3 separate regions of the Homo sapiens genome follow, and all the other regions are linked to region 2. Evidence: fine-mapped expression QTL. A gene starts in region 2. Each other region holds a variant in brackets. All regions are shown on one strand. Distances are between the middles of the regions. Region 1 has its middle 55 kb from the start of MTPN. Region 2 holds the start of MTPN (myotrophin). Region 3 has its middle 26 kb from the start of MTPN.

The links. PIP is the estimated chance that this variant, and not a neighbour inherited with it, causes the effect.
Region 1: its variant is fine-mapped to the expression of MTPN in sun-exposed skin (GTEx, PIP 0.94).
Region 3: its variant is fine-mapped to the expression of MTPN in whole blood (TOPMed, PIP 0.92).

Annotation. Positions count from the first base shown.
Region 1 is chr7:135,918,458-135,926,644 of GRCh38, forward strand. No RefSeq gene overlaps it. Among named protein-coding and RNA genes, the nearest start is that of MTPN, 55 kb to the right of the region's middle. The variant G/C (reference allele first, on the strand shown) is at 4,475.
Region 2 is chr7:135,973,772-135,981,958 of GRCh38, forward strand. It overlaps MTPN (myotrophin), which reads right to left and starts at 3,588. Exons shown (of 4, transcript NM_145808.4): 1 at 3,258-3,588. The coding sequence starts at 3,329. It also overlaps a transcript of LOC105375523 not described here.
Region 3 is chr7:135,998,833-136,007,019 of GRCh38, forward strand. It overlaps a transcript of LOC105375523 not described here. Among named protein-coding and RNA genes, the nearest start is that of MTPN, 26 kb to the left of the region's middle. The variant A/T (reference allele first, on the strand shown) is at 4,896.

The DNA.
Region 1 (8,187 bases), 55 kb before region 2:
GACAACTTCAGAGGGAAAGAGTGGGAGCAAAATACAGATGTGATTTTTGGCAAAAAGGTTGTCAAGTTCATTCACTACGTGGCAAAACTCTAAACAAAATCCTTCCCTAAAAATGTGTCAGGAAACACGAGGCAATCCTTAACCCAAATAAAGAACTGTGGCAAGAGAAAAATAATAATAAACAAAGATACTTTCTCTTTGTTTAATCCTTTGTAACTTAGCAGGCATATTAAGCAATGTATTTGACTCTCGTAATAAAAATCAAGACTATTTCAGGAAAATGGAAATAAATTTCATCAAATGAGAATGTTCTGGGCCACAGGTATGTGATTTTTAAAAAAACTTCCTAATTTTTAACGAGTGAAACTTCACTTCCTTTTGAAGTTATGCCTTTTCAACTTTCTGAAATAAAGGAGTTTAAACTTTTAAAGGGTAACCTACCTGGGTCATACAACCAAAACATTCTGCATTTGGTTTGGTTATCCTCAGAGAGGAATTCCTTGTTCTCCTCAGCACCATCAAAAACCACAGCAATACTTTTTCCCCTGGCTGTGGTCAAGGGGTGGCAGCTGTCCAGGTTTTAACTAGGGTTTTTATTGATTATTACCATTATGGAAAGAATTGCTAACAATGACATGAAACGAGATTTAAACTCATAGCTATAGAACAAGATGAACTACAGGATTTATGCAATGGTACATTCAAAAAGAAAAGGAAGGAGTGAGAAAAAAATGAAAACCAATCCCTATTACCCCTGTGCTTAGGGAGACGAGGAGATATTGGAAAACACAGCTGCTTGGTGTGATAAAGCCTGGGGACCACGTTCCTGTTCCATAAGATTGCCAAACGCAGGTGCAGCTCTCTTCCTGGATCTGAAGTATTAGTAGGTCGCTGCAGAGACCTGGGAGAGCTGGGCTTCTGTCTCCTATGTGGTCCCATGAGGGCAGTCCAGTTAGAGAGCTCTGGAGTAGAACCCATCAGGGTGGGGACCCGCTGCTGGCCCCTGATGAGTGAGTGCACCACAGCACAGAGAGATGGCTGGGGACCTCACTTCTCAGGCCACCCTGCAGGAGATGCACTAGCAAGGGCAGGCCATTCCCGGAAGGCTTGCTTAACCTTTCCTCTGGTCCCAGTGCTGCTGCTGTCTGCCACCTTCCCTTCTGTCACTCAGCCTGCGTCAATGTTGCAACCCCATAAATTGAAATAGGGAAAAGATCTAACCACGTGGAGCTTAGCTCTCTGAGGCTACAACATTGCATTCAAATGTAAACACTGTGAGAGGCACACACCTGAGTAAGACGTAGGCACTTACACTCCAAGAGCAGGTGGCTCCTCTCTGCCATCCCATCTAGTTTGTCTGTTTCCTTCCAGCATACATCATGACTTGTAATTATTTTATTTACAAATAGATATTTTTTCCCCTCTCCTACTAGGAAATAAGCCCTACGTGGCAGGAGTCATGTCAGAAATGCTGTATTTATTGCAACATCTATAGTGCCCACACGGGGCCTGGCACACATTTAGACACTCCGTGGATATTTCTCTTTCTCTCTCTCTTTTTTTTTTTCGAGACAGAATCTCAGTCTGTTACCCAGGCTGGAGTGCCGTGGTGCAGTCTTGGCTCACTGCAACCTCTGCCTCTCAGGCTCAAGCGATCCTCCCCGCTTGGCCTCCCATGTAGCTGAGACCAAAGGTGCACACCACCATGCCCGGCTAATTTTTTTTATCTTTTATTTTGTAGAGACTGGGCTTCACCATGTTGCCCAGGGTGGTCTTGAACTCCCGGGCTCAAATGATCCACCTGCCTTGGCCTCCCAAAGTGCTGAGATTGCAGGTGTGAGCCACTGCACCCAGCCTTGAATATTTGTTGAATGAATGAGCTTACAATGTAGAGGCTGACTATCCTCACCATCTACCTCCATTAAATGCATTACAAGCTGAAATGGCCCAAGTTCGTTTTGTAGCTGTATTTTTTTGTAGCTGTTTGTTTTGTAGCTGTATATAGTAGAAATTTTGGTTCTCTTTATTATTTATGTTCCACAAATCATGCGTCTCCTTTCCCTGCCCTTAAACTTCTCTCTTCCTTCTCAGTCCTGTACCTGGGGGCAATTGTTAGCTTCTGGGGTGACCATGGGCTAGTGTGGACCTCAAGGGAGCTGCTTTGAAATGACTGCATGGGTCTGGGTTGAGAGAGGAAGTGCTGATATGAAGTGAAAGCATGAAGTGTTAGGGACCCCGTGCTGCTGTACTGTTCGGGACGCCACCTGCATACTCACACCTTGCTGGCCATGGACAAGGCTCACTTGCCTTCTCCTCCTCCAGCAGGAAGGCCAACAGGCTTGTCCTGTGGTTAGCCTGGGACTCTTGGCGAGGATGTCAGCACCGTGGCTTGGCTTTGTTCCACGATGTCCTGCTCCCTCTTTGCACCCCACAACTGCTATTTAAGCCAAAACCTTTTCTCATTATTATAATAATTTGCCTTAAAGTCACTGGCTTGTCAGTTACTTGGCTCATACCAGCTATATTAGTCCATTTTCATACTGCTGATAAAGACATACCTGAGACTGGGTAATTTATAAAGATTAAGAGATTTAATGGAATCACAGTTCCATGTGGCTGAGAAAGCCTTACATCATGGTGAAAGGTGAAAGGCACGTCTTACATGGTGGCAGGCAAGAGAGAATGAGAGTCAAGTGAAAAGGGAAACCCCTTATAAAATCATCAGATCTCATGAGACTTATTCACTACCATGAGAACAATATGGAAACCGCCCCCATGATTCAATTATCTCCCACTGGGTCCCTCCCATAACACATGGGAATTATGGGAGCTACAATTCAAGATGAGATTTGGGTGGGGACACAGCCAAGTCATATCACCAGCAAATCCCTACCAGCCTTTGAATCATCCAGCAGGCAGAAAGAAAAATCTACAAGGATGTGAGAGACTCTATTCTGTCTGGGTAGATAGGGATAAAAAGGATTCCACAGAGAGAAACACGAGAGTTGGTTATTTACAGGACCTAACCATTCCTAGATGGAAGGCAAAGGTTTTTGTTATTTAATCTATTTTTCTTTCCTTCAAGAGTTTAAAGAAAAGGAAATCCTGGGTCCTTAATGGTATTTGCTTGTTATCTCATGGGTATCATTTTTTGGGTCATTTTTAATATTTAGACATATTTTCCTGTCTGTAGGTGATGCTCCTAATTTCTCATCAGACATCCATCAGCTAGGGCACTGTGTCAAGTGTTGCATAAAAAAACTGTGCCTAAATCTGGTGGCTTAAAGTCACCTCTTTGTATTTGTTCATGGTCTGCAGTTTGGACTGAGCTCAGCTGCTGGTTCTCCTTCTGGTCACTCATGCTGCTGCAGTTATCTGGGGATTGACTGAGGCTAGATGGTTCAGGACGGCCCCACTTACATGTCCGGTGGTTAGCTGGGGCTGTTGGCTGGGACACCTCAGTTCTTCATGTGGCCTCTTCTGCAGTGTGACTCCAGACTTCGTTCCATGCTAAGATCCAGGAAGGCAAGCTCTAATGAGGAAGCACTTGTCAAGCTTCTCCCGGCTTCATGTTTGGTGGGCCAAGCAAGTCACACAGCCAAGATCAAGAGTGAATATACAAAGGGATTATGTAAGGACACAGATACCCATAGGCATGATTCACTGGGGACCATTATTGTAACAGTCTACTTCAGGCATAAAGAGTGGTGTGTTATTAATGGGTTTGGCCTTTCATTTGCTTCAACTAACTCATTACATTCTTTCATGATTTTGCTAACCCCTCTGTAACGAGGTGCTGGCCAATCCTTGGGAGTATTTCTCAACCTATGCCTTCTAAACATCTATATCTTGGGGTTGGCAAACTTTTTCTGTGAAGGGCCAGATAATAAATATTGTGGGCTTCATGAACTACATCTGTTGCAGCTGCTCACCTTTGCTGTTGAAGTGTTGGAAGCAGTCATAGGTAATATGTAAGTGAATGAGCATGGCTGCGTTCCAATAAAACTTTATTTACAAAAACAGGCAATGGGCCAGATTCGGCCTGGGGACCATGGTTTGTCAATTCTTGATTATATCACAATTTTCTAGACTGTCAAAAAAATTGTTTATTACACTAAAGTATTGTTACTTCTCAAACTTGAAAATTAAATGTTGTCTTTGTAGAACCTGATTTCATCCAGATCAATGCGTAAGATTTGTAATTGTTTAAAATCATAAGTCCATATAATATTTTCCAAGCATCTTTTAAAGAGTCTTAGAAAAAGCTGTATTCATAGAATAAAATGTAATTAGTTGATTCAGTGAGAGTTGGAGAGGCAATATAAGTGTAGAAAGCACAAACTTTATATCCAGACTGCCTGGCTTTACCACTAACTAGTTGTGTGACCATAAGCAAGTCACTTAACCTCTCATTTTAGTTTGATCATCTAAAAATAGGGATGGCAATATTCCCACCTCATAGGATTATTAGGAA[G/C]ATCAAATGAGTCAGTTCACATAAAATATTTAGAATGGTCCCCAGATAATAGTAAATGTTCAGTTAAAATGGTGAAACTAACATCAAAATGTCATAAAACCCTAACTCCCTTAAGTGATAATTTTAAATAAGAATGTTATATTACAGAGTTTCTAGGTTCATAGTGTTGTGGTCTAATCTCATGAACTATTAACTGAAAAATTACCATAAATTAGTTTTGATCTGAAGACTTTCAAGCCTAATGAAATTTGACTAGCAAATCACAGAGTAGCAGTGACGTAATTAGATTTGGTAGCTTGCCACGGGGGATGTGTATAAACATACAGAACATTATTAGATACTAGGAAGAGGATATAGGTATACAAGACACTTCCAGATTTGTAAGTAAAACCTTAGAAAAATGGGCGTGGTGGCTCACGCCTGTAATCCCAGCACTTTTGGAGGCCGAGGCGGGCGGATCACCTGAGGTCAGGAGTTCGAGACCAGCCTGGCCAACATGGCAAAACCCCGTCTCTACTAAAAATACAAAAATTAGCCAGGTGTGATGGTGGGTGCCTGTAATCCCAGCTACTCAGGAGGCTGAGGCAGGGAGAATCGCATGAACCCGGGAGGCGGAGGTTGCAGTGAGCCAAGATTGCACCACTGCACTCCAGCCTGGGTAACAAAGCAAGACTCTGTCTCAAAAAAAAAAAAAAAAAAAAAAGAAGAAAAATATAGCTTATTTAAAAAAAGTCTATCTAGTAGTATTCTCAAAACCAACATCTGGTGGCTAGGAATTGTCTATGTATTATTTTCCTTTGTGTGACAAGATGCTGTTGCTACGAGTGTTGCCAGACACGTGATCCACTGTTCTATCAAAACAGTGGAAATAAGACCATCCTTGCTGCTTCAGCTGCTGAATCATAGAAGTTGCTGGAGTGGCCAGACAATGCTTTGTTTTGCTTTGTCATGTATAGCTGTGCCTGAGTATGTGTCATGATGTCTCACAGTGACCTGCATTTGACCCACGCTCAGCATTTCCTCAGTGAATTGTTGTGACTCTGTGATATTTGTCTTCACATCATTGATTTCAGTTTGCAATCAATATCAGTAGTACTTATGAGGCTCCATGGTCAATATTTGGGTACATGGACACAGGTAGCCTCATGGCTCTTCTAATAGTCTTTTCTAGGGCAGGATTTACTGAATCAAAGCTGTTTTCACATTTTACTGTATAATGGTTTTACGTCATCATTCAGAACAAACACAGTGAAATGTCTATTGAGGGCCAGGTGCTATTAAAGCTGTTGTTAAATTCTCTCTTCTCAATCAGCAATCATATTTTAAGGAAGTAAAAGCCTTGGAGAAAAATATCCCATGGCTGATGTGTGATGATCTGGCTGGTATCTGGGTAAGATCGTTGACCTGACACAGGACCTAGTTAGTTGGATAGGATGAGTGGCCACCCATAAAGAAAAACGGAGGGCAAAAGCCACTCCACTGTGCAGAGAAATTGGGACACTCCACTCCAGGGAACCTGGCCACCCCAAGGCTGCTGTTTCCAAGCCAGCAGCACACCCACTGCAGTGGGGAATCCATCTTCACAGCACACTGTGACAGCAAACGGGGCATTGGGCTGAGAAAGCAGCCTTTGACTTCCTCCCAGAGTGGCTCTGCCTGCCAGTCCTGCACCCCACAATGACCTGCATATAAAAAGCATGAGACTGCAGTTCATGTCATAGGTCCCAAGAATTCTTTACATGTCTCTCCCAGCCCTCCACTTTTTTTTTTTTCTGAGACAGTTTCATTCTGTTGCCCAGGCTGGAGTGCAGTGGTGCGATCTCGGCTCACTGCAACCTCTGCCTCCTGGGTTCAAGCGATTCTTGTGCCTCACCCTCCCAAGGAGCTGCGTGCGCCATCACACCCAACTAATTTTTGTATTATTGGTAGAGATGGGGTTTTCCCATGTTGGCCAGGCTGGTCTCAAACTCCTGACCTGAAGTGATCTGCCCACCTTGGCCTCCCATAGTGCTGGGATTACAGGCGTGAGCCACTGTGCCTGGCTTCCACCTTCCACTTTACTTTGGAATTCAAGGAAAGGTAAGGTAAGGGTAAGGCTTGAGTCTCAGGAATCCAGCTTTGGGGACATAAGGCGGAAAAACCTCCTAAGAATAACTAAGGGTCATTTTCACCAGTATTACACCTTTGGAACCATTGTTACATTTCACCCTGACTTCTTTTGGCCAGAATATACCTTTGAAACTCATTTTTAAAGATTTTCCTGGACATCTGGAGCTTCAAAACTTGGCCAGTTTTGCTACATTTCACATGTTAAAGGCTTCCATTTACTTTCTCTTTAGGAAGTCATGCCTGATGGCATCTATTTATAGGCTATTTGACTGTTTCTTGCTCTTATGGTCTTATTCAATGGTCCTCAAACTTCAGCACGCATCAGAATCACCTAGAGGGCTTGTTACAACATAGACTGTTGGGTCCAGCCCGAGTTTGATTCAGTAGGTCTTGGCTAGCGTCCAAAAGCTTGCATTTTTATCAAGCTTCCAGGTTATGGCAATGCTGTTGGTGTAGAGACCACATTTTGAGAATCACTGATGCTACAGAAAGAGAAAAAAAAAAATCTTATGGTGGTCTGGTATACTGTGCTGCATGAAAAGTCCTATGACAGCTATTCTCTAATGGCAAACTAATTTCCCTCTAAGCTCCTTCTTTCCACCAGGTGTGTGCCTTCCATCCACATATGCTGGTCTGTTCTTCAATCATTATATAAGGGGACTCTATTCCCTTTAAAATGTATTTAACCAGATTTAAACTTTCTTTACAGACCCCAATTCTTTTTTTCAGAGTGGGTCTCGCTTTGTCGCCTAGACTGGAGTGCAGTGGCACAAACACAGCTCACTCACTGTAGCCTCAAACCTCTCAGTCTCAAGCAATCCTCCCACCTCAGCCTCCCAAGTAGCTGGGTCTACAGGCACTTGCCACCATACCCAGCTAATTGTTTTTTAATTTTTTGTAGAGACTCAGTCTCCCTCTGTTGCCCAGGTTGGTCTCGAACTCCTGGGCTCAAGTGATCTTCCTTGCCTCAGCCTCCCAAAGTGCTGGGATTACAGGCGTGAGCCACTGCGCCGGTCCTAGATTCCAATTCTTAAAATGAGAACTTAAAAAAATTTCTGTAATCACTTCCACCTAAAGCCGTACATGGTCCCCATTTATACTTCAGTCAACAATGTGAAAGTTCTAAAATACAGCTTTTGCTGTAACTTAGTATCTGCACATATATATTTTTTTTCTATCACTAAAAGTAAACTGCAATAGTCTTCTGGTGCTAACAAGATTACAACACAATCAAACTGATTTTGTATTTAATTTTGTTCAGTTTTAAGGTTCAAAGTGATCACTCATCCTGAAAATTACACTCTAAAAAAGTGCTCGTAGTTGAGTTTGGGAAATGCAGATCTCCAAGAAATGTGGAGCAACTTAGATGAGCAATGAAAGGATCAGAGGTTTAACCACGACTCCATTTTCTTCAAGCCCCCTGAAGATCCTGACGATCTGGGATGTGCTGGCTACACCCTGCTCCCCGTCAACCAGGAGCGTTACTGAAGTTACAGTAAAACAATGTCAGGAGACTGACACAAAAGCAAATCCTTTCAAAGACTGGTAAGGTTTATTTCAATTAAATCTTTATGTTTTATTTTCCCTCCACTCATTTTTTTCTA
Region 2 (8,187 bases):
GTATGAATTTTTTTTCACGCAGGTCTGCTAAATATAGATGCTTACGTTTCCTGAAAACTGTGTCGAACTTCTGTACTATCATCCCAGGACTACTAAAGAGTTTAAGACCTGAAAGATGCCTAGTAAAAATGAATGAATTAACTAAATGTGGTCCTTAAGTCAGTCAAGAAGCCAAATGTAGTGTTGAAAGACTTTAAAATTGCTTCAGATATTGTCTTAAAGTTATACATGAAACATTTAATGTAATAATCTAAATTTTTCTCTAAATAATCTAAATTTTTCTCTCAATACTGTCTTTTCCATTTCAAAATACAATTTTCAGTGGTTTGGGGACTGTGAACTGACTTTTCTAAGTTCAAGAACTCACCTAAAACCAATGATTTAGGGATACTCACACTTCGAACTTTAATAGAGAAGTCAGAGGCAGGTAGAAAAGTGTAATTACTGACTTTTAAAAATACTAATTTATAAAGGAAAAACGGGTTCACACCTGTGAACCAGTGCTTTCACACCTGTAATCCCAGTGCTTTGGGAGGCCGAGGCCAGAAGATCGCTTGAGGCTAGGAGTTTGAGACCAGCCTGTACAACAAAGTGAGATCCAGTCTCTACAAAAAATAAAATTTGCTGGGTGTCGTGGTGTACATCTATGGTCCCAGCTGCTCAGGAGGCTGAAGTTACAGTGAGCTATGATCACGACACTGCACTCTAGCCTGGGCGACAAAGCAAAGACCCTGTCTCCGAAAAACAAAAACAAAAAAACCCTGTTTCCAAAAAAAAGAGGAGGAGGAGGGGAATACTAAAATGCTTATCTTACTCTTACAGGTAGATTCTTAGGTTAACAATATGAGAGATCTTCACAGGAATGTTGAGGAGAGTTTTTAAAATAGACTCTCACCCCTGAGAATGAAGACTAGACAGGTCTAAGTGTTTCTTTAGTATTTTCTTTGTACACACCTACTCAGATAGATGCACATTACAGAAACTCAAAAAGTGAGTGTTCACAAATTGGTAGATGAAAAATGTGAGTCAATAAATAAGCAGGGAAGACAGCTGTGGGGCAGAAGAAACTGTAATAAGGACCTGAAAGTATAAATGGGCACCGTAAGGGAGCTGAGTCAGTATAAACTTCAGTTCTTGTTATTATTTCTCATTAACAAAGTGAAAGATACTTTATGAAATCTTCAAAACTAAGAAAGGATAAAGCTCAATGCTCTGTACATCAGATTACATTACAGTTACAGTCATATCTTTTTGGATAGTCCAACTTTCAATACTCCCTTTTGCTTTTTCTGAATGTCTACCCTCCCTCTTATGCAAATTTTTTACATTAATGAAGAACAGGCTACGGTAGTAATATAGGGAAAATAATCAAATTGAACATGATAACCTAACCTAATTATAAAACTAATTGGAAATAAATTAATCCATCTTTATTGGCATATATTTTCATATAAATATTTTTGTGTAGTTGAGAATTCTTTGGGCACAATTTACCTGCCTGAATGTGGACCCTGGGAATGTCCTACTAGAAATCTTGGTATGATACGCTTTCACAATTAGATCTTAGACTGAGAGATAGTGCGTGGAGCAGTTAAAGAGTTTCAGTTTTGGAGTCAGCAATTTAGTTCTTGCTTCACAATTTACCATCTCCATAACTTTTCTTAAGTATCCTGCATCTCAGTAATCTGTAAAATGGGACCAATAATAGGACTTACTTCCCAGTATTCACAAGGATGACATAAAATAATGTGTCAGGAAAACACTAAATACATTGTGTTATTTTGGTAGCTGTAAGTTCAGTTAGTACTTAATCAACTTTTTGTATTTCAAGTATATCAAACAACCTAGGTTCCACCATGACAGGAAAACAAAAGCCCACTTACTTCCAGAGTATTGCAGTGTCCCACCACTGGTAAGTGTACCAAATAATTTCTACCTTTTAGCTTTATATTGAAATAGCCAATAAGTCAAGTTTCAGTTGGCTACCAGCTGAGAAGGCAGTGACGAGAAGACAGCCTGTCCTAAAACTCCACTGCAAAAAACTAAGCAGGTAAGCAGCATCCAAAAAGTCTAAATTGTAATGGCATTAAATAAAGTAAAAACCTTCAGCAGTTTGCCTTGCACAATCCTGTAAGTTTTAAGAAACTGCTTCGCTTACTTGCTTCCTAACACAGCCTCTGAAGCAAAAACCCAGGTCAGGTCCTATTCTTTGAAGAGTTAAAATCTAGACTGGGTTCTCACACTTTTAGAAGGTGAGCAAGATGCCATCCGTGGTTGTCATAAAATTATACTTGTTTTGGAAGATTCATTTTAGATTATCACTAAATTAAAATCACATGTTAAGTTCTCTCATAATTACAAAGGCACAGTTTCAGGATGGAAAGACAGGCTAGCTTGGAATTTTAAGTTTCCCACTCTGCCACAATGTCGATTCAGTTTTATATTTGGGGCTGAGGTTTGAGTTTGTCTTTCTTCATCATGATTTTACCCCCCAAATACACTGCCACTAAACTGCATTGCTATTTACTACACATGTAAGCATTTCAGGTGAAATCAGGGAGAAGAATGGAATAACTGAAGTTAACATGCTTGTTTAAAAACTATTCAGATACCTTAAACATTCCCAGATGCCAGTTGACAACCTTACCACTTGAAGCAAATATGTATTTGTTGTGGTGGGGGAAAGGAAAAAGGCCACACCCAAAGTTAAGACACCACAGTGAAGTGATACTCAGTTTCAGAATTTTAACTATTTCTATTTTCGGTACTCTTTTCACGGTCAATGAATTCTTCAACTTCACACCAGGCCGAGAGTTAAAAAACATGTTCCTCTGATCCTAATTACTTAGGTTACTTCATTTAGTAATGGGTAAGTCCAAGATGGAGAATTACCTCATTCAAAGAAAGGTTTAAGTAACTTTGGTGTAGAAGAGGGCCAAACTCAAATGATCAGTGCGCAGAAGAAACTCTGGATGAGCCAGACACCACTCCTCCCCTCCCCCAAGAGGCCAGGAAGTCAGGTAGCGCCTAACTGTATTAACGCAGCAGTTACCTGACACAGAACGCTACCAAGTTACCTGGACCCTTCTTTCAGTTTAGCTCCTCCCTAGACGCCCCTCTCTCCTTGGTGCCGCCTCCACCCAGGAAGTCTCTCCTCCCGCCCACCCCCATCCCCGCAGTCCAGCTCCCATCAGCTTCCTCAGCCTCATCTCCAGCCCACCTCCGTGTTCTCGCCTACTCTTCTCATCCCCGCTTACCTTGGCCACATAGTCTTTCACCTCATCCAAGTCTCCGTTTTTCAGGGCCCACATGAACTCCTTGTCGCACATCACTGCAGCGGGGCAGGCCGGTTGGCCGGGCAGAAGATGAGGAGGCGGTGGCAGCAGCAAGCGGATGCCGCCGGGCGAGAGGGAGGCAGGGCCGCGCGAAGCCGGAGAGGAGAAGAAGAGAAGGAGGGTTAGGCTGCCAGGCGGGCGAGGCAGTTGGCCGCGGCGACCGTTCGGGCGGGAGAAAGAAAGTTCTTTTGCGGCCACCGGGCCCAGCAGAGAGGTTCCGCCTGGCCGAGGAGAGGCAGGAACCTTTACACTTCCGGTTCACTCCCCGCTAGGACCCTCCCCCAACTTCCTCTTCCTCTTCTCCTCCGCGGAACGCCTCTCTCTGGGTCCGCGGCGCGAACGCCACTAGTGCGCATGCGCAATGTACAGGCTGCCGGGAAGGCTAGAGTGGAGGGTAGGAGCCGGCGACAAGTGGGCGGGACTGGGAGGCAGAATGAAGGAGGCCCGGGGGAGGTCAAGACAGCGAATGGAGGAAGAGTGAGAGTACTTTCGATGGGATTAGGACGCTTCTGCACCACCATTAATGGGAAAAACTTTACTTTTTAAAAAACATAATCTTGGAGGGCATCTTGCTCAGCTTCTAAAAATGTATAGGAAGAGTGTTTAATTTGAATTCCTTCTTCCTTGCCTTTTCCCCTTCCCTCCCTCCTTTTCACCCCTCCCTCTCTCCGTCATCCAGTCTGACTGGGCTAAAAACGATGGAATAACGCTATTCCTGCCCTCCAGGAAATCTTCAACACTAAAACTACAATGTAAATTGAGTGTGTTAACACTATGTATAATGTTCCCTGGAGCAAAAAACTTAAGTGTGTGGCAGGAAAAAAAAAATTAACTCATCTTCCTGACCAGCAAATGACGTCCAGGCATTCAGTTTGATGCCGTAAAGTGGAGCAAACCAAACTGTCTAGTACAATTTGCGTTTTTTAAATTTACTGTTTGTTTTTAATGGTTTGAAACTTCAGGACTGTTCTGGTGAAGTCAGTTCTGTTCTTCCTAGGGTTTAGTTGTAATGCCATAGTGCATAGCTACCACTTGAATTGTTCCTCACAACCCTAATGATCCAGGCATGCGCACATGAACATAGATCCAATAAAAGCTCTTATTGGAGCTAGAAATATACGTATAATATATATACATATATAACTATTACTATATATAAAACTCATATATATAATCTATTATTTGTAACCCACTAAACACATTAACTAAGCTACTTTACCACCATTGCCGTACAGTGTAGGGGTTCCAAACAGACTCTGGAGCCAAATTGTTTAGTTTGCGATACAGGTCCCACTTCTTGCTAATTTTGTGTCTTCTTGGGCAAGTTACTGAACCCCCTTCTGCTTCAGTTTTCCACTTGTGTAAAATGGGGATGTCAATAGTGTTTGGAAATGTATTTTTTTTTTTTTTGCTATCATTTAGAGTAGAATAGCAAATGGGTTTCAAATCAGAAGAAATCCCTCCAAATATTAACATCTACCTAGATTGTCATTTGTTAATTTTACTCCCTGATAATTAGAAATACAAATCCACATACCCAATAGTGATACGATTTCTGGAAACAAATCTCAAGGGGGAATTTGTTAGGCAAGTCCTAGAATCTCCATCTCTTCTCCAACACACTCCCACCTGTGTGATTTCTGAGTTACATCATGCTGAGAGCTCTTGATTTATATCTTTGGCCGGGTGCAGTGGCTCATGCCTGTAATCCTAGCACCTTGGGAGGACAAGGCTGGAAGATCGCTTGAAGCCAGGAGTTGGAGACCAGCCAGGGCAACAAAATGAGACACCATCTCTACAAAACACAAAGATTAAAAAAATTAGTTGGGTACAGTGGCGGACTTCTGCCTTCCCAGCTACTTGGGAAGCTGAGGCAGGAGGATTACTTGAGCCCTGGAGTTTGAGGCCACAGTAAGCTATGATGGCACCACTGCATTCCAGCCTGGGTGACAGAGCAAGATCATCTAAAAAAAAAATCTTTAACTAGACTTTTCCTATGTGATCTATTCTTATATTTAACTTCTTACTCATTTGGATTTCTCAAACTTAACATGTCCAGAATAGGATCTGGTCTCCTGTAGATGTTAAACCTAGTTGTCCCCCACATATCTCTGTAAATGGCGCTGCCAACCACCCTATCACTAAAACCAGAAACATGGGAGTCATAATCACTCTTCCCATTCTCAACTTTTCTCTTATTCAATCCATCAGTAAATATTTCAAAATATGTCTTAAATTTGTTCATTTCTTGCCATCTTCACTATTACTACTCCCTGCACCCTCACATATCCCCCATCCCTGTCACTGTCATCTCTGTCTACACTGCTATGATGCTATGTGCTATGATAGCCTCCCTGTTGGTGTCCTATTTTCACTCATCCTTTTCTAGATAATTCCCCACTTTGGGAGTTACTCTTTTAAAACTTAAACATGCACTTGTTGTCCTAAGGCCTTTCAAAGGCTTCCTATTGCAGGTAGGTTAAAATCCTAACTACTTGATATGGCCTTCAGGGCCTTCTGTGCACTGACTGCTGATGGTAGGTGATAGTATCTCCTATCTCATGACAGTCCCTTGCCACCCCCATTGTTTCTTTGATTTTGAAATATCTTGTCTTCTGTCAGTTTCAAGCTAAACCAAGCTCATTCCACCCTAAGGCCTTTATGCTTCTTGTTTCTTCTCTGGAATGTTCTTCATCTAAGTCTTGTTCACTCCATCTGACTTTTGAGGTTTCAATGCAAACCTTCAGAGAGACCTCCCAGACCACCCACTTTAAATAGGTCCTTCAATTACTTACAGGGCCCAGCTTTTCCCCCATTTACAGCACATGTCACAAGTATTTTAATTATCTTTTTTGTTTACCTATTTTGGTAAGTATTCATGGTGTTAAACAAATAATTCCTTTGTCTGCCATTCTGGGCACAAGAGAGAACTGCTCTTCCTGGCTTGTAGTTGAATAATATCATGTAACTAATTTTGGCCTATTAGTTATGAGCAGACGTGAAATGAGTCACTTCCAGGCTTGTCATTGTAAGACCCTTCAGAACTCTTTCCTTCTACTACAGCAACTAGCAACATGCAAGATAGTGGCTACACAGTCAGTCTGGGTTCCTGTGTAACTACAATGAGCAGAGCTCCCTCACTGTCCTATAATGGATATATAGGATGAATATGAATTTAACTTGTATTGTTTTCAGCCATTGAAATTGTGGTGTTTATTACTAGAGGAACACTGAACCAATCTTGACTAACACAGAAATTAGTGTCAGAATGGGAATGTTACTAGAACAAAACCTTTAAATAAATGGCATTGGCTCAGTGGCTGGGGAGTATACAACAAAGGAAGTGATAGGAGAAGCCGTAAAGATGGTGATTCATACTCACAGGAGTGAAACCTTTGGCAAAACTGTAATAATATGGGGAAGGTCTAGTAGTTCTAGAGGAAAAGGCCAGAAAATGGAAAGCTGGTGGCATGTATCAGTAACTATTGACTATATAAAATACTGTTACTGGTGGAGGGTGTCCAGGTTCTTGGCACTGTGAACAAAGAATTGGACAAAATGCACAAAGCAAGGAAAGAATGAAGCAACAAAAGCAGAGATTTATTGAAAATGAAAGCACACTCTGTAGCGTGGGAACAGGCTGGAGAAAGTGGCTCAAGGACCTGGTTACAGAATTTTCTGGGGTTTAAATACACTCTAGAGGTTTCCTGTTGGTTACTTGGTGTACACCCTATGTAAATGAAGTAGTGGCCCGCAATCAGTCTGATTGGTTGCAGGAGGGGAACAATCAGAGACTGAAGCAAAGTTACAGTTACACCCTATGCAAACGACTAATTGGTTGCAGAAAGTGATGAATCAGAGGCTGAAGTGAAGTTACAAAGTTATACTCCTATGCAAAGGAAGACTTGGCCTGTGACCAGCCTGATTGACTGCAGGAGGGGACCAGTCAGAGGTACTTACAATTTTTTATCTGACACTCAGAAAAGATGGGGGTTGCAAAGGGAGTAGCCTTGAGTCCATTTGTTACTTAGGCATGGGAAGTTGGGGTTTTCCTTTTGATTTAGTTTTAGGAAGTCAGTGTGAATCAGCCTTAGATGATTAAAAAAGATTTAATTAATCTCCGTGCCTCCAGACCCTATTCTCCTGTCTCAATACTACAGGAAATGATGAGTTTAGAAAATAATTGTCCAGCTTGCAGTTAGGAAAGAAAGTGATTATAGGAAGCTATAAACTTGGAGACATGCACGTTTAGAAGATGCAAGTGATTCTCATTATTATTCATTAAAAACAAAACTGAGATGAGCAACAAAGGTTGATTAGAACTCAACCTCTTGGCAAGGATCAAATTACGGGTGTGATAGTCACACCCATGACTAAAACCTCCGAATAGATTAAAGTGGTACCCCATGAATCTTTTCAGTTGAACAACATGGCACAGGTCTTCCCATGACAGAGCTGGATAGATTCAAGGTACCTACAAGAAAGAATTAAAAGAGAAAGTTGTGACTTAGTGCAGTGGAGACACACACAATCATGGTATGTGGAGCTAGCTTGAATCAAATATGGAAGAAGCTGGCTAAATTTTTGAGAGACATGCCAAAATAGCTATCAGTCAAGACTAAAGGAAACTGTAAATAGACTCCAAGTGGGAGTGGGGCTTCAACCTTCTGTGGACAGAGTTGTCTGAGAACGCTGCTCAGACTTTAAGGAGATCACATTTTCCAGTGCTCACTTAAGGACAAGGAGGCCGGGTATAGTGGCTCATGCCTGTAATCCCAGCACTTTGGGAGGTCGAGGCGGGTGAATCACGAGGTCAGGAGTTTGAGACCAGCCTGGCCAACATAGTGAAACC
Region 3 (8,187 bases), 25 kb after region 2:
GCTGGTGAAGGAATCCATCATTGTAAAAATAAGGACACCAAATAAATAAACCAAACAACTAGTATCTTGACCATTGTTTTATCCCAGCTTCAAAACTACCATGTAGACCTAGAAAGGAATATAATGAGAGATATAAATCCTTGCCTTGAGAGAACTTATCTGCAGGAACTTATTGAATTTTTAATATGTGGATTAAAAAATCATGTTCAACAAGGAGAAATCATTAATGGCTATTCTAGTGGACATTTGCTTTTAAAATTATTTTGGCTGTCCAGCGTGGGAATGCTCATCTTATGTTTTGGAAATTACCCTTCCAATGAGTCTTGGAAGGAGGCAGACTTGCCTGTAACCATAGAAGAAGAAAATGCCAAATACCAGCTCTTCAGGCATATCTCTGAGACCTAGCCTTCATCAATGTGATGGAGCAGGCTGAGAAACCAGCAGTGTTCTTACAGCCTACCAGTGATGTGCGCGCTGGAAGAATCACATTCTGTAGGAGCAGCAGCTGGAGGAGGACTGAGTTCCTTAGGGTAGCTGGCCATGTGCAGCATCTGGGACTAGGGGCGTTGGCAGACCAAGGGGACAGAGGGTTCTACCTTGTGATTTTGGGTGTTGTTATCAGCTGCACAACTCCCTGTCCATTTTCCAGTTCTTTCAGTGATTCTGGGAGTCACCCACTATGTTTTTAATAGATTCCATTTTCTGCTTAACTCAGCTGGAGTTGATTTTTTCTTGCCTGCAACTAAGAACCCAGAGTGATACAATCATTAGCTTGTAAGAATTACATTAACAGCCTTAGAAGTGGAAAATTTGTTTTCCAAAAAAAAATTCGGTTATTATAGTAGTGATAACAATAATAATAGCTAACATTTCTTAAGTATGTACTCTGTGCCAGGTGCTGTTCTATAAAATGTTCACCTATTAACTCATTAAATCCTGACAATAATCCTATAAGCAAACTGAGACACAAAGGAGTTCAAGTACACAAATGGTAAAAATGCAGACTTAGGCTTTGAATCTGAGCATTTTGACTTCAGGGCCCATACTTTTTTTTTTTTTTTGAGGTGGGGTCTCTCTCTCTGTTGCCTACACTGGATTGCAGTGGCGTGATCCTAGCTCACTGTAGCCTTGAACTCCTAGGCTCAAGTGATCCTCCCACCTCAGCCTCCTGAGTAGCTAGATAGGACTACAGGTATGAGCCATCATGCCTGGCTATTTTTTTCTATATTTTATTTTTTTTATTTTTAGAGATGAAGTCTTGCTATGTTGCCCAGGCTTGTTCATGCTCTTAACAGTTATCAAGTAAGAATCTGTCTACTTTGCTAAGAAACTTCCTTTTCCATAGCTTTAATATTTTTTTCAGATTTCATTAGGGAAAGAATCTCTATTTCTTCTTTGATAATTTCTAACACAAGACTTTATCTTTCACAGTGAGGAAAAAGGGGCTACACTGGCATAACTCAGCCAGAGTAGAGTAGGGTCTTCATCCTTTCACTCATTCATCCACTCAGCAAATATGTAATAGCTGCCTGGGGTAGGCAGACGCCAGTGATATTTGCCTTCATCCTTTCACTCATTCATCCACTCAGCAAATATGTAATAGCTGCCTGGGGTAGGCAGACGCCAGTGATCTTTGCCTTCTGGTGTTTATGTTGTTGCATCATCCTCTCTCCTTGAGTGTGTGCTGGCCTAGTGACTTGTTTCTAACCAGTAGAATGCAGCAAAGGTGATGAGATATTACTTCTATGATAGTTTACATAAGATTGTAACTCCTCTCTTGCTGTTTCCTTCTTGGCTTGCACACATTGATAAAGCAAGCTGCCACAAAATGAGCTGCTATGTTGGGGTGGCAAAGGACTGGTGGCAGCTTTCAGCCAACAGCCAGCTGGGTGCTGAGGATCTCCTTCCAATAGCCCTTGAAGAACTGACCTCAGCCAACAACCATGTGAGCTTGGAAGCAGATCCTTTCCCAGTTGAGCTTTCAGATGAGATCCCAGCCCTGGCCAATACCTTGATTGCTGATCTGTAAGAGACACTGAAGCAGAGCACATGCCCAGCTAAGCCATGCCCAGGGCTCCCGACCTCACAGAAACTGTGAGATAAGAATTGTGTGGTGTTTTAAGCTGCTACATTTATAGTAATTTGTTATGCAGAAATACATAATGTATGTAGTACTTTTTTGTGTGTGTGGCAGTTTTTCTAGATAGACCAGGTCCCTGACCTCATGGAACTTTTGAAAGAAATGAACATGATAACTTCAGGTAGTTATTAGAGCTTTGAGGAGAATAAAACATGGTGATGCTATAGAGCTATTCTCTCTAATGGGGTAGGCCCTACCCATACACAGGGCTATTTAAATTAAAATGAAATAAAATTAGAAATTCAGTTTCTCAGCCACAGTTACTTGGTTTTAAGAACTCAGTAGCCACATGTGCCTGGCTGGTGGCTACTGCATGGAATAGCACTTGAGAACATTTCCATCATCACAGGAAGTTCTACCATGCAGAGCTATTGCAGAGAATGACTTGAGGAATGAGTGGCTTCTCTAAAATGAGAAGCCAGGGGCCAGGTGCAGTGGCTCACACCTGTAATCCAGACACTTTGAGAGGCTGAGGAGAGTGGATCACTTGAGATCAGGGGTTTGAGACCAGCCTGGTCAACATGGTGAAACGCTGTCTCTACTAAAAATACAAAAATTATCTAGGTGTGGTGATGGGCACCTATAATCCCAGCTACTTGGGAGGCTGAGGCAGGAGAATCACTTGAACCTGGGAGGTGGAGGTTGCAGTGAGCTGAGATCTCACCAGTGCACTCCAGCCTGGGTGACAGAGTGAGACTCTGTCTCAAAAAAATTTAAAAAAGATGAAAAAAAAATGAGAAGGTAGGGAAGGCTTCTCTGAAGGGGAATTATTTGAGGCAAGACCTAAACGATAAGAAAAAGCCAGACTTTCCAAGCACAGCTGCATTGTAAATTAAAAATAAATAAAATAAAGAAAAAGTCAGACCTGCAAAGATCTGGAGACGGGATGTGCTTGGCAGAGGGAACAAGATGCATGAAGATGTACGGCAAAAACCCTCAGGGTGTATTTGAAGACAGTATGGTTGGAACTTAGGTGACACAGGAGAAGAGGAATAGCAGTGATGCAGGAATGGGAAGCTAAGGGGCCAGGTGGTGTAGGTTCTTGGGTCCAGGTTAAGGGTCTTGAGTTGTACTCCATGTACGATGGGAGGTCACTGGAGGTTTTAAGCACAGGAGTAACGTTATGCTATTTATGTTTATGTTCTCAACAGATCACTTTTTCTGGTATTTGAGTAGATTGTTGGAGGTAATATTCAACAAGCGACTGCTTTTTTGGGAAAATATATTGATCATTTAGAAGACTATTTCAGTAGCCCAGGCTGACCTGGGCAGTGGCCATTGAGTTAGAGAAATAGACAGATAAATGATCTATTTTAGATGTGTGACTGGCAAGACTTGATACATTGGATGCAAGAGGGCAGGAGAAAGGGAGGAATCAAAGATTATATCTACAATTTTGATTTGAACAAAAGGTTGGATGGTGATAGGAAGAGGAAAGACTGGGAGAAGTACAGGTTTGGAGGGCAAAAGTGAAGGGTTCTCTTCCAGTTGTGTTAAATCTGAGATGCCTTTTAGATACCCAAGTAGTCAGGTAAAGTAGGCCATTGGATATGCACCCAGAGTGCAGAAAGGTCACAGCTGGAGATATAAACTGGGAGTCGTTGGGTTACAAATGCCACATAAAGCCATGGGACTGAAGGACATTTCCAGGGAAAGCACAGAGATGGAAGTGAGTCTGAGGGCTCTGTTGGAAAAGGAGGGAGAAAACAGAAGAACATTGTGTATACCACATAATCTTTCTCTCCCTTGAACCTCATTATTCCATAAAGAACTGGGTTAGTATTAAAAAGATCAACTCCTAGGATGGAGCTCAGCTAGGCTTTTGTATAGCAATAGCTGTCTGGTATTTAAAACACAAAACTGGGGCCTGGAGGTGGTATAGAAGGGAGAGGAATTAAACTGCAAGTAAACTCCAAACCATGTACCATGGAGGCCTAGAAGGGTCATCTCTTCAACCCCATCTGTGTCTCTTCATCCCTGATTCCTCAGGTTCTAGCCACAGTGGTGTTTCAGGTGCTCAAATATGCTAATCTTTCTACCTCAGGACCTTTGCACAAACGTCTTCCTTTGGCTGCTTCTTTTTCTCCCCCTTTCTTGGCCACTTGAACTCTAGCAAGTCTCTCTTGTTTTTCTGTCTCAGGAATTTTTATTGTTTCCTATATGGTTCTCATTACAATTTACATTCTTTCAACTTTTGGCTGCCTCTCCTAATAGAATTGCAGTTTTCACAAATGAAGAAATGATTTATGTATTTTTTTAACCTGTTAAAATCCTTTGTGCTTGGGGATAAATACTTGTTAGATGCATGACCTCACTGCCTGGGGATGAATATGGTTGTGTGAGTGAACTTATTCATTGAGTGTTAGACACTATAAGTTGTGTAAGTGGGTTTGTCTTATTTAAGCCTCTCAGTTCTGTGGTATAGATATTTTTATACCCATTTTACAGATGAAATGATAGGTTGAGTAACTTGGTAAAATTCACACACCTGGTAAGTACTAATAGCAGAAGCAGCATTTGAAGCCAGAGCCAGGTATTCTAAAGTACGTATACTAGAAGGGAACGGGAATATGAGGGCAAGCTCGGAGATGCAAATGGAATAATAGGCCATACGAGAAGACTCACTGCCACCCAAGTCCAAGGGGACTGCTGATTTAAAGAAATCAGGGCAAAGGCAGAGTTTCAAAGGGGCAGTGTTGTGGTGGTGAAGCATGAGATGTGGGTATATTGTTCAACAGAGCGGTTCAAGAACAGG[A/T]TGGGGAAGAGTGGGAAACAGGCCTTTTCTTGGAGATAGGGCACAAAAGAATCAGACAACTAAGTCAGTACTAGTTCATTGACTGTGGTAACCAGGCCACTTCTTTCTGCCACCCGGGAAAAATAGAGGAACTATGAGCATTAAGAAATCTGGTAGATAGGCCCGAGATTTTTAGGGGGTAGTCATCTTTCATGCATTTATATCATTTATTATCATATATTTGTAAGATTATTTGATTAACATTTGTCTCTCTGTAGATTTCATAAGGGCTATTTATTATTTTTTGCTTCACTCACTGTTGTATAATAACACCTGGCCGAACAGCATTAATAGAGATCAGTAAATATTTTATGAATGAATAATAGACAAATGATAGTAATAATAGGAAACACAGTGCACATATGCTATGCTCAAGGAATTGTTTAAACACTTTACACATATTAACTCAGTCCGTTCTTACAATAACTCTATGAGATGGGTACAATTATTTTCTGTATTTTATAGATGTGGAAACTGAGGCACAGAGAGGTTAAGTCAGTCATCCAAGGTCACACAGCGAGTCAGTGGCAGAGCTGGAATGGAACATTGTTCTGGAGACCATGCTTTTACCATTTTGCTACACCACCTGTGAACAAATGAACACATGCACAGATGGCTGTTCTAAGGGCCACTTGGCGTCTCTGCTTTTGGACAGAGACCATTCTAAGACTATTTCAAAGCCAGAATTTTCTTTTAAAGATGAAGATTGCTAATATCCTGTCTGTCTTGTCTTTTATAAGATCTATAAAGGGAACCGTTGGCCCGCAGAGAATTGGATGCATAAGGTAACCAGCTGAAATGCAGCAGGACAGAATAGAGACTGGCGGGAGGGGGACACAGCAAATAACAGCTGACTTTGGAGTAAGGAAATTCCAAGATTAGAACTTAGTACCAGTGTAAAGGCAGAGGAAATGGAAATGGAGGCCCCCTCAATTGTAAGTCAGACATGTAGAGCTGGGAAGGGCTTTGCAGGAGTAAATGGAATAGCATTTCCTAAACACGCAGGTTTTTTTTTCTTCAGACATAAAGTTAAAAAGGTACGGAATGAGAGAAATTCAGTTTTAAGTTAGCATCAGAATGAACACATATGTACTTTGTTTCTTGGTTATAAAAAAGAAAACTTTGGAATAAAATCTATTTTTAAATGTTATAATAACTGGCCAGGCATGGTGGCTCACGCCTGTAATTCCAGCACTTTGGGAAGCCAAGGCAGGTGAATCACTTGAAGCCAGGAGTTCGAGACCAGCCTGGCCAACATGGCAAAACCCTGTCTCTACTAAAAATGCAAAAAATTAGCCAGATGTGGTGGTGCACACCTGTAGTCCCAGCTACCAAGGAGGCTGAAGCAGGAGAATTGCTTGAGCCTGGGAGGTGGAGGTTGCAGTGAGCCAAGATTGCAGCACTGCACTCCAGCCTGGGTGACAGAGTGAGACTCCATCTCAAAAAACAATAAAATAAAATAAAATAAAATAAAATGTTATAATAACAGAGTACGTGTAACTATATATAGAAATACTATGAAATGTGATTGTTAATTTTATTGCAATACTAGACTGTTGTGTTCATTATAGGAAAGAATGATCGAGTTTGAGGTGTAATGCTTTTAAAAATTCATTTTCCTTTTTCTATGACTATGCTTCCATTTCCCAATCTATTACTGATACTGAGAGTTTTAGCTGACTGAGGCCATTTAAAATAATATAATTTAGTCTTCCACCTTACTCTGAAACCCACACTGAAAACAAATATTTCTTAAAAAGCAATTACATTTATGTGCTTATTACCTGCCACATATATATTATAAAAGTTGATTGCTTTATGTAAGAGAAGTTAATCTGAAATCATTCTTAGCTAAATGTAATATTCTCTGTACTTGTTAAAACAAGCAAAATAAAATGGCAGGAGCAATATAGTTTAAGCATTTTTTTATTGTATGTTTGGCAAACTATGAAAATTAACATTTGGAAATTCTTTTGCTCTATTGAAACCTTGTTATTGCCTAGCCATGATAAAGGTAGAAATATGAAAATATTCTAGATTGTTACATTTTATGACTAAAGTACAAAATTATAGAAATAAATAGAAAGGTACACTTTGGGAGGCCGAGGCAGGTGGATCACAAGGTCAGGAGATCGAGACCATCCTGGCTAACACGATGAAACCCCGTCTCTACTAAAAATAAAAAAAAATAAAAAAAAATTAGCCAGGCGTGGTGGCAGGCGCCTGTAGTCCCAGCTACTCGGGAGGCTGAAGCAGGAGAATGGCGGGTGAACCCAGGAGGCGGAGCTTGCAGTGAGCTGAGATCGTGCCACTGCACTCCAGCCTGGGCGACAGAGCAAGACTCCGTCTCAAAAAAAAAAAGAAAGAAATAGAAAGGTAATAATAATAACAATATTTGTAGAGAATTTTGTAAAATATTTTTCACATCTGATATGGTTTGGCTGTGTCCTCACCCAAATCTCATCTTGAATTGTGGCTCCCATAATTCCCATGTGTTGTGGGAAGGACCCCATGGGAGGTAATTGAGTCATGAGGGGGGGTCTTTCTTGTGCTGTTCTCCTGATAGTGAATAGGTCTCACTAGATCTGATGGTTTTATAAAGAGGAGTTTCCTGCACATGCTCTCTCATTTCCCTCTTGCCTGCCACCATGTAAGACATGCCTTCCACCCGCCGCCATGATTGTGAGACCTCCCTCGTGGAACTGTGAGTCCACTAAACCTCTTTTTCTTTATAAATTACCCAGTCTTGGGTATGTCTTTATCAGCAGCATAAAAATGGACTAATACAACATATATTATTCTTATTTAATATGTAGAACAGCTTCAGGGAGTTGGTAATATTATTTTTATCCCAGAGTTGAGGGAGTAGAGTTTCAGAGAATAACATATGCACAGTAGTATCTGGTGAGGTTGAAGTTTTTTGACTTCAGCTCTGTAAAATTTCATTGCATGAAACCACCACTGTGCAGGAAAACTAATGGATTTGGATCTCAATATTGATTTTAAGGAGATTTTAGGATTTTCAAAAATAAATGTTAAGAAAGTGGGTATTTATATTTGGTTTGGTGTTTAAGGGAATTGTCAAAAGTGGAAAAGAGTCCTTTCCACCCCAGATAGTTTTTATTCTTTCCAGGTAGAAGACACAGAGCATCATCCAGATCCTCTCTTCCTTAGTGAGAGGCACACTCTGTAAAGAGTGGTGTTCAGCAGAAACTGTAGAGGCAGACCCGGAATCAAATCCCAGTTCTGCCAT